Homo sapiens: one gene and its partner. The protein of the gene in region 1 purifies or fractionates together with the protein of each later gene. This does not show direct contact. Each region holds a gene or a part of one and is shown in the gene's direction. Other genes may lie near its edges.

What was found. Proteins that work in one complex are often made in the same cells at the same time.
Region 2: the proteins of XYLB (region 1) and RPE fractionate together in Homo sapiens (co-fractionation; one large-scale study listed by BioGRID). This does not show direct contact.

What each region holds. Positions count from the first base shown.
Region 1 is NC_000003.12:38,373,491-38,379,036, forward strand, and holds part of XYLB (xylulose kinase), read left to right. Parts: intron 1-971; coding exon 972-1,012; intron 1,013-1,653; coding exon 1,654-1,769; intron 1,770-2,626; coding exon 2,627-2,742; exon of another isoform or gene 2,743-2,776; intron 2,777-3,427; coding exon 3,428-3,501; intron 3,502-5,546. UniProt on the Homo sapiens protein: Phosphorylates D-xylulose to produce D-xylulose 5-phosphate, a molecule that may play an important role in the regulation of glucose metabolism and lipogenesis.
Region 2 is NC_000002.12:210,015,115-210,019,637, forward strand, and holds part of RPE (ribulose-phosphate 3-epimerase), read left to right. Parts: intron 1-858; coding exon 859-998; intron 999-1,089; coding exon of another isoform or gene 1,090-1,143; intron 1,144-1,392; coding exon 1,393-1,527; intron 1,528-2,358; coding exon 2,359-2,445; intron 2,446-2,675; coding exon of another isoform or gene 2,676-2,773; intron 2,774-3,038; coding exon of another isoform or gene 3,039-3,104; exon of another isoform or gene 3,105-3,107; intron 3,108-4,523. UniProt on the Homo sapiens protein: Catalyzes the reversible epimerization of D-ribulose 5-phosphate to D-xylulose 5-phosphate.

The sequences.
Region 1 (5,546 bases):
TGGGCAGTATCTTTCTCATTTTAACAGTTGTCTAGAGCTCAGTTGTCCCAGCATTTATTTCACTGGTCCCTGATGGATGGAGGGTGGTGTTGCTTCAGTGTTTGGGCAGTGCAGACGATGTTGAGATTCACATTCGGTCTCGTCTCTTTGTTGTTATAGGATAAGTTCTCAAAGGTGGGATTCCTAGATCCAAGGCTTCTGACACACACACTGCTGATTGAACCTCAGTGGCAGTGTTTGAGTGCACCTGTTCCTCACTCCCATTTCACCTTTATTCACATGTTGATTCACTCAGCATTTAGTGAGTGCCTATTATGTGCCAGGCCTTCCTTCAGTGCTGGGGCCCTTCAGCAATCAAGGCAGATAAAGATTGCTGTTGTGAGCCATGTGTGGTAGTGTGCACCTGTAGTCTTAGCTACTTGGGAGGCTGAGGTGGGAGGATTGCGTGATCCCGGAGTTCTAGGCTGCCGTGAGCTATGATCATGCCACTGCACTCCAGCCTGGGTGACAGAGTGAGACCCCACCTATATATCTCTTAAAAAAAAAAAAGATTGCTGTTGTGGGCTTTGTGTCTAAGGCAGGGCACAGAGAGTGAACATAACCTCACCCCCTTCTTTTCCATTACTGCCTTTGTCTTTCTTTGCTGTATATCCTTGGTGTCTTGTCTTGGCCTCCTTGATTCTCTGCACTCTCGGAAGTGCCTGACAGTGGAGGGATGTTTGGACCCCTTCAGGGAAGAGACTTCACAGCTCAAATCAGCGGCCCTGCTAACAGAGACTTCACCCCGTGACCCCTATGACCTTCTCCTCTTAGGGCCTCCTGAGCGCTCAGCTCCCCTGCTCCTGCCTCCACCCTAGGGTGTGGGTGGGGGTTGGAGGTGGGGGCTCTGCGCCTGCCTGGAGAGCCCTGTGGTTTGCTTTGTGGTTCCCATGTGGCCGCCAGCTAACCAGAAGCTCCCCTCCCATTCTCAGCGTCGCTGGCAGGCATGAGACTGGAGGAAGGTGACATTGCGGTAAGGCGACTTCCCACACCCATAGGCTCTTTCTGTTTCCACACTCACACCCACACTCTGATAAGTAGCAGAGGTGCTGCTGAGACCCAGATCCCAGGGTCCCAGGGTCTGGGTCCCAGCAGGATCTCTGCTACTTATCAGAGTGTCTGCCGGTTCCAAAAGACAGTGGAGGGAGGGGATGGGGGCGCACATCTTTCTCAGAAAGTCATTGTTCTTTGCTAGATGGGCAGGACCCCTGCCTGCTTCACAGTGGCCAGTCTTAGTGCATGCAGTGGCAGAGGGTCAGATGTGGGGCCAAAGGGCTGTGAGCAGCGCAGATGAATAAGGAAGACATAACCCAGACATTCCTACTTCTAGTGGGAAAGTCATATGGGGAACCAGCCATCACCCAAACCATTATTTAGATGCAGTTGTGGGAAATCAGCACAGAAGATCCATGAGATCTGCATCTGGGGAGCTAACTCCTGGCTCATCTGGTATGGGAGGGTCAGAAGTGGCTCTTAGAAAGTGGCCTTGCATCTGAGGTCTGCAGCATGAGTGAAGTGACAGGGTTAAGGTGGGTGGAGTACAGCGCGTCGCTGGCAGAGGGCAGCGTGTGTGGGCAAAGCCCAAGGTGCCCACCTCTGCCTATCTCTCCTCAGGTCAGCCTGGGCACCAGTGACACCCTGTTTCTCTGGCTCCAAGAGCCCATGCCTGCCCTGGAAGGCCACATCTTCTGCAACCCGGTTGACTCCCAGCACTACATGGCACTCCTGTGGTGAGCTTGGGTGTTGGTTGGCACCATTCCCTGGGTGAGGAGGTGTGGGCAGGTCTGGCACCATCTTGAGGACCCCAAGTCATTCCACTAAGCTCTGGAATGACTCCCTCCACTTTCCCGGGCTCTGCTGGGCAACTGAGACCCCCAAGGACTCACCAGCTCTTGCTGACAGCAGAGCTGGGTGGGGAATAACCCAAGACCCTGTGTCCTTCAAGCCCAGGTTCAAATTCTATCCTCACCAGCTATATCCTGTGTGACCTTGGGCAAACTCTGTAGTGTGGCATGTCTGAGCCACACTTTCCTCATGAGATGGGGAGGGTAAGAGCATTTACCTCACATTGTTACTGTGACCCGTCTGGCATGTGGTGGACCCTCAGCAAATGGCGGGAAGGACATCCTGCCTCCCGACGGCTCTCATGGAAGGGACATGCTCTGTGCTCTGACCACAGGCCTTTGGAGACCTGTCCAAAGCTCCTGAGGGAAATGGTTTCTGAGCTCCTAAGCCCTAAGAACCATTGGAGAATGTGGCTAGTTAATCTAGCCCTCCCTGCCTCATTGTGCCCATGGTAGAATGTGCAGAAACCCAAGCTCCCTGTCTCTACCTGGGGCTCCTCTGTGTCAGCCTCCTGTGTAAACAGCCCAAGACAAGGGCGTTTCCGGCACCTCCCAGGGACATTCAGGGGCCTGAATCTGAGGAAGAGCCTCCGATACCTAAGTTTCAAAGCCTGCTGTGCACTGACTAGGGGTCGTGGTCCAGCCTGACCTGCAGTTCCTCTGCCTGAGTCTCTTCACTGAAACTCATGGGTCCAGTCAGCAAGCACCAGCTCCCTCCCTCAGAGCTATGCCCTCTTCTGCAGCTTTAAAAATGGCTCCCTCATGAGAGAGAAGATCCGCAACGAGTCTGTATCCCGTTCCTGGAGCGATTTCTCTAAGGCACTGCAGTCCACAGAGATGGGCAACGGTGGAAACCTGGGTAGGCCAGTTGGTGGTGCCCAGGCCTGTGAAGGGTCAGCAGCTGCCGACTGGAGGGGCAGAGCCTGGGGCCCCATGAGCTGGGGGAGAGGAGGGCCGTGGAGAAGTCCAGGGGAGTCCTGTCTGTCTGCACTTATATTCCACACATCCTACAAGCTGGTGTGGAACCCTGTGTTCTGAGCAAGGGTGGGGCTGTAAGGCTGTCCTTGGCTTCTGCTCTGAGCAGAACATCAGGCCATAGCTATGTCTTCTGTCCCCACCAAGCCCCTGGTGACAGCATCAGAGAGGGCAGCCTCTACCCTGGTGCATCCCCGTTCACAGCCTCTGCCCCAGGCACAAGGAAAAGTCCCCAGTGTCTGGGCAGGCCTGAGCAGGGAGGGTCTGTGCCTCCCTTGGTCAAACCTGTTTTGATATTTTAGGATTGGCTGGGCAGCTGCTTCCTATTCCAGGCTGCCAAGTGAGAGCAGGAAGAGTTGTCTTTGAGAAAAGCTAGCTCAGGGCTCCCTGGTTCCCTTCTATCCTGTTGGAGAGAAGGAACTGAGAATATTCACAGGTCTCATCTGGGGGATGAAAGAGCCAGGGGACCCAGGGATATGGGGTCATTTTGTCCTGTTCTAAGTCTGTTAAGAAGCTGATCTTTTGTTTTTTGACTAATGACGGCTGATCTCTTCCTGGTTTTATTTCAGGTTTTTATTTTGATGTAATGGAGATCACCCCTGAAATTATTGGACGTCATAGGTTTAACACAGAAAACCACAAGGTACATGTGCTGTTGGTGTTGGAGTTACATTGGCTCCATTTGTGAGTGTAAAATTTAACAATTGCCTATCAAATTATGTTACTTTTAGGGACTTCATTCATTCACTCATCCATTAATATCATACACACTTGTGGTGTGCCAGGGTGCATTCTAGATCCTGGGGAATCTGCAGGACCTAAGACAGACACGGTCCTTTCCCTCAGGGAGGAATGCAGAAAACCTGAGAGTTCTCTTCCTATTTAACAAATGCTAACACTATCATTGTGTATCACAGAACTTATTTCCTTGGCGAGTTTTATCCTATACCCATCAAGAACCCATGGATCTTGAGATCATGAATTTCCTCCTGGTTGAAAGAGCTGCTGAGCCCAGGAGGTACTAACGTTTATTGAGCCCATTTGGTGCCAGGCATTGTGCTCATGGTTTTCTATACCTTCCTCATTTACTTTTCTTTTTTTTTTTTTTTAATTTTTTGAGATGGAGTCTCACTCTGTTGCCCAGGCTTGAGTGCAGCGGGACGATCTCGGCTCACTGCAACCCCCACCTCGTGGGTTCAAACGATCCTCCTGCCTCAGCCTCCTGAGTAGCTGGGATTATAGATGCAAGCCACCACACCTGGCTAATTTTTGTATTTTTAGTAGATAGGGGTTTCTCCATGTTGGCCAGGCTGGTCTCGAACTCCTAACCTCAAGTGATACGCCCCCTCCCAAAATGCTGGGATTACAGGTTTGAGCCACCATGCCCGGCTATCATTTACTTTTCAAAGCAATAGGCACTATTGTTCCTCTTTCTAGATGGAGAGGTTGAGACTCAGAGGCTCAGGCTAAATAATCTGCCCAGAGTCACAAGGTCATAGATGGTGGAGGGGGCTCAAACCCATTCCTCTCTGGCTCTGAAGCTGCTGTTTTCTTTCTCCTCCACAATGTGACCTTTCTCGGGAAGGATTTAGTTGGTTCTTGCTCCTCAAAATTGACATTGCTGCTGGAGAGTCACTGGAGAGTCATCACCACATTTTGGGTTGTACCTGAGAGATGTTTCTGACCCCAGTAAATGGGGGGTTTATGTAAGACACTCTGTCTGGAAACTGTAACTGTCAGAGTTGGCGTTGGATTCAGTGGCAGATGATGGCACTACATGTTGGATTATGAATGGAAAGCTTTGTATAAAGTAGGAAGTTCATCTCAATCTTCTGATGGAGGATCAGTTTGGTTTCTTTTGTTAGAGTGAGAAGCTATGCCTGTTCTCTTTCATGCATATCAATCCTAGATTTGTCAAGGAGAAAGTAGTGTTCTTCATTCATTCATTCAACCAGCAGATATGTATGATTGGTGCCAGGCACCGGGGACACAAAGGAGAACAAAACATTGGTGGCCCTTGCTCCCCAGAGCCTGCTGTCTAGGAGGGAGAGGGACAGTAGACGACTGAATGAGCATGTACATGAATGCAGCAGGTGCTAAGGCTAGGTTGCAGAAGAACAGAGTGCCGCAAAGGAAAGCAGCTGGTGGGCGGGTTGGAGACTTACCCTGGGTGGGGTGATCAAGCCTGGGCGTCTCTGAGAAGGTGGCCTTTAGGTTGAGACCTGAAAGTACTCAGGATCTCACCATGGAAAGAGTAGGATAGACTTTCAGGCAGAGGGAGCAGCTTGGGAACTAGAAGAAGGTCAGTAAGGTTAGAGTGTAGCTGTTTATGAGGGGGATGGCGGCAGGTTCTAGCATTGGTCTCAGGTGCCAGAGAAGCAGGAGTGAGCCTGGGGTTGATGCCCATCAGTGCTAGCTTGAAGGACATGCCACAGGGGTGGGATCTCAGCGTAAGCTCGTGGCTCTCACTTATCTAGTATGTACTGCATTTTCCAGGCTCTGTTGTCTAATCTGATCATTGCAACAACCCTAAAAAACAGGCGCCACTATTACCTCTGTTTTGTTAAGAAAAAGAATGATAGCAAGACTAATGTAACTTATTGAAGATTGCAGAGCTGAATGGTAGACAGAACTTGAACTCTCAGCTGCCTGAGACTAAGTTCTGTAATGTCTCTTGACTCTCTTCAA
Region 2 (4,523 bases), on another chromosome or scaffold:
CTTCTAGTTGATAAGGTCAAAATCCTTGATGCCATCTTTATTTTCCTCTCATCTATCTATCCATGGAGGATCCTCTTATCCTCCACATCTCATCTATCCTCAGCTCTCTTTGCTCTTATTTAAGAACATATCCATCCCGAATTGCTGCCATCATTTTTCACCTGGGTTATTGCTATCGTAGCTTCCTCAGTCGATAGTATCTTGTCACTTCACTGTGGTGGTTTTTCCCAGTGGCCTGCAGAATGCTGAAGGGTTTCTCCTCACCACATGCTTCCCTGACCTCTGACTGGTGTATCTCCTTCCCCAGGCACACCAGCCATATTAACTGCCAACCTAGTGTGCATTTTACTTACTTATTTTGTTTATTGTTTGACTCTCGCATTAAGAATGTAATCCCTATGACAGGAGAGTTTCATGTTTTTGCTCTAACCCTAGGACCTAGAATAATTAATGATGCAGCAATAGCTCGATAAATTGAAAGAATAAATGAAAAGGATCACTTAATTTTTCCTAGAGGAAACTAGTTTGCATGGATAGTATGACTTATTCTTTAAGTTTTTTAGAGTGGCATTTCCTGGACCTGGACCTAGATTTCCTGATTTTTAGATGTTAACTTTTTATATACAGCACTGTATGCTTTTTGTGGGAAAATAGTGTTTTTTGTAAATGAATTTAAATAAATCCTTGTCTTCAAAATAAGAGGAAACTACCTATACTGAATTAGAACTATTTAAATAATGATTTGTGTGATGGCCAAAGAGTTCTTATCAGAAGTGGCAAAAACTACATACAGGTTGGCTTCCAATAACATGAGCCAGGTATTTTTCAGTAATATTTTGAAGTGTCTTTTCTTTCTAGACATGCACATGATGGTGTCCAAGCCAGAACAGTGGGTAAAGCCAATGGCTGTAGCAGGAGCCAATCAGTACACCTTTCATCTCGAGGCTACTGAGAACCCAGGGGCTTTGATTAAAGACATTCGGGAGAATGGGATGAAGGTAAGAAATCGTGATGAGAGTGTTTTGTAACATTCACTCTCAGTTGGGAAGATTTGCGGGAAACAGGAAATTTTCTCTTTTTTTGATACAGTCTTGCTCTGTCACCCAGGCTGAAGTGCAGTGGCACAGTCAGGGCCCATTGCAGGTAAAGAATACCTTACTTAAGCAGCTGTTCTTCAGCTATGATGCCAGGATTTAACTTCTTTGTCACATAGCATTTATGTATTCCACTAAAGTTTTCTGAAAGCTACTGCTTGTTGAAAATACTTACATTTAATAGTCTTGTTAACTTTTAAAAAATAAGAACAGATATTTCTACTGGGCCTGCTATGCCACAATAATATAATACAGAAGTAATTGTAAATGTGATATAGCATATTTGTGTCTGTTACAGGTTGGCCTTGCCATCAAACCAGGAACCTCAGTTGAGTATTTGGCACCATGGGCTAATCAGATAGATATGGCCTTGGTTATGACAGTGGAACCGGGGTTTGGAGGGCAGAAATTCATGGAAGATATGATGCCAAAGGTAAAAGAAGTATTTGATTTTGGGGTGAGGCTTTTACAGTGTGTTCATTCAGTAAGCATTTATTGAAAGGCTTGTATATTTAGGCATAACCTGTTCTGAAGGTGAGGAGATGGGGATGCTTACAGATCATTCTAATACAGTATAATAAATGCTGTAATAGATTTCTGATTTGGAAATCAGAGAAGTATTACATCTTTATCTTGAAATTTTCTCTTTCTTTGAGACAAAGTCTTGCTCTGTCACCTGGGCTGGAATGCAGTAATTCAATTAGGGTTCATTGCAGCCTTGACCTCCTGGACTCAAGAGATCCTCCTGCCTCGGCCCCCTGAGTAGCTAGGACTACAGGTGCATACCACCATGCCCGGCTAATTCTTACACATTTTAGTAGAGAGGAGGTCTCACTACGTACCCAGGCTGGTCTTGAACTCCTGGGCTTAAGCTGTCCTCCCACCTTGGTCTGCCAAAGTGTTGGGATTACAGGTGGCAGCCAACCACGCCTGGAAGTCTTGAAATTTCCTTTTGAAACTATTATCTCTAACTTTTAGATCTCTTGGAAGTTGTCATTGACTATTGAGGATTTGTCTGTCTTGTTTACATGACAGTCTCTGCAAAGACAATACAGATTGCTGTTTGCCAAATAGAACAAAGCTTGCTATTAAAAACCAAGTGTTCCCCAGTAATATGTTGTATTGGTATAGTTATTGTGTGAGACAATTGGAGTTTTAATTGCTAATATTTGCTGTTGGATTTTTTTGTTTGATTGTCCCCCACCCCCACCCCCACCAACATACCCACTTTAGGAGTTACTTATTTCCTCATGTATATATCTAGGTTCACTGGTTGAGGACCCAGTTCCCATCTTTGGATATAGAGGTCGATGGTGGAGTAGGTCCTGACACTGTCCATAAATGTGCAGAGGTGAGATTGCTCTTCAACTATGACTAGACCAATTTCCCGTCAAATATGTCTCCAGGACATTGTCTCATGGGCCAGCGATTCCCTCTGTGGTTCCTAAGTTGACTTTCTTTCTTGGAAAAGTATTTTTTGTTCACATGTACAACTAGGAAAATAAACAGCCATAAGTGGATATGCTTTTTTTTTTTTTTTTTTTTTTTCTTTTTCTGAGACAGTCTCTCTTTGTGGCCCAGATTGGAGTGCAGTGGCGTGATCTCTGCTCACTGCAATCTCTGCCTGCCGGGTTCAAGCGATTCTCCTGCCTCAGCCTCCTGAGTAGCTGGGATTACAGGTACCTGCCACCATGCTTGGCTAATTTTTTTATTTTTAGTAGAGACAGGGTTTCACTATGTTGGCCAGGCTGGTCTCAAACTCCTGACCTCAAGTGACCTGCCTGCCTCGGCCTCCCAAAGTGTTGGGATTACAGATGTGAGCCATGGCGTCTGGCCCGTAAGTGGATATTCTAAAATCACATAAATTGTTAAAATTGTAAATCCTGGTTTTCTCAGGAAGGCTGAAGAAAGTTCTTTTTTATAAAAGAATATGTTGAATTTCAGCCCTTTGGAAGATCATTAAGTTTCACGGCCTTGGAAGTGAGAAATTTTTCCAAAATACGGAATTAAAAGGTACTACCAAGGGGGGAAAATAGATAAATCTAATTGACCTAATTATTACATTATTCTTTAGAACCTACATATTATTTAGTTGTTCCTTGTAAGAACTTGCTAGAACCATTTTTGATGAAAATCTAGGCCTGATACCTCTTTGGCTATCTGTATAGAAGTAAAAACTTTTTTTTACTTTTTTTTTTTTTTCAGATAGCTAGTCTAGCATAGTCAGGCTCCTGAGGATGCCAGCCCTTCTGGTAGCACTGCAAGTGATTAAAGCTTACATGACTGCTTTTCTTCCACAGTGTGATGTATCTACTTCCAGGTTCTTGTATAACTGCCACACGTTTCTGCTTGATATATACCTATCAAAAGCTTGACAGTAGTAAATACTTATGCAGGAGGGGCTGGCCAGATGATGAGTGAGCTCATATCCTTTTGATCGCTTGTGGAATTGCTTTGTACTAAACTGTGCTTTGCCAGTATACTATTCCTGCTTTTATGCCAGAGGTAGCAAATTTTTTGTGTGAAAAATCAGACCTTGGCGATGACCTTAAACAGCAGGATATGAAGAACTCCCACAAGCTTAGCGTTCCAATAATGGAACACTAGGCATAAATGGGTTAACTGAAGAGAATATTTGCAGTGTTAACCCTATAAAACTCACCTTTATAATTTCTGTGAGGAATATTGTTAGAAATGTTGTCATACATGAAGTGACACTATCTGTCTGGAAAAATTTTCCTCAGCCTGTGGTTCTCCCACTTCTCCCTCTTTGTTCTAGCAATGAATCACAAAACAGATTGGGTTTCCATCCTTGAATCAGATCCTAGGAAGATCAGAGTTAAATTTGGACCCAATTTTTTAGCTTTTCTTTTTCAATTTCTTTGCTTCCATATTTAAATGTATCTTAAAAACTTTTTTAAAGCCACTTCAAAACCATTCTGAAATGCAATGAAGTATAAAGAGACATTCTATTTTTTGACACAAAAACGAGAACTCACTTAATTTTGCCGTAGTTTATGGATAATTTTACATTTTTAGCAATAATTGTCCTTTCACACTCACAAATTCATATAAATATAATTCAAAGAATAAAAGTGTTTTTTTAGTAACTGTAGAGGCATTGGTGCATATTGGGAAAAACCTTAGTGGACTTGAGGAGTAAAGGCTTTTAAACCTTATCTAAAGGTCGCAAAGATACCATGTAGATTATTAAGAGTTGGTTTACCAGAAAGGTCAATGATTTCTTAGACACATTTAAAAATAGTCTGACATCCTCATCTGTGAACATTTTAAATTTTTCTTATTGAACTAGATTGCTTAAGTCTGCTTAATCTCAAAGTGGCTCTCATATGATTGAAATGTTGACAGATGCAAGGGTAGACACTCTAGTCCAGGAATTCTGTTTTAGGTTTTTCTACATTTTCCTTT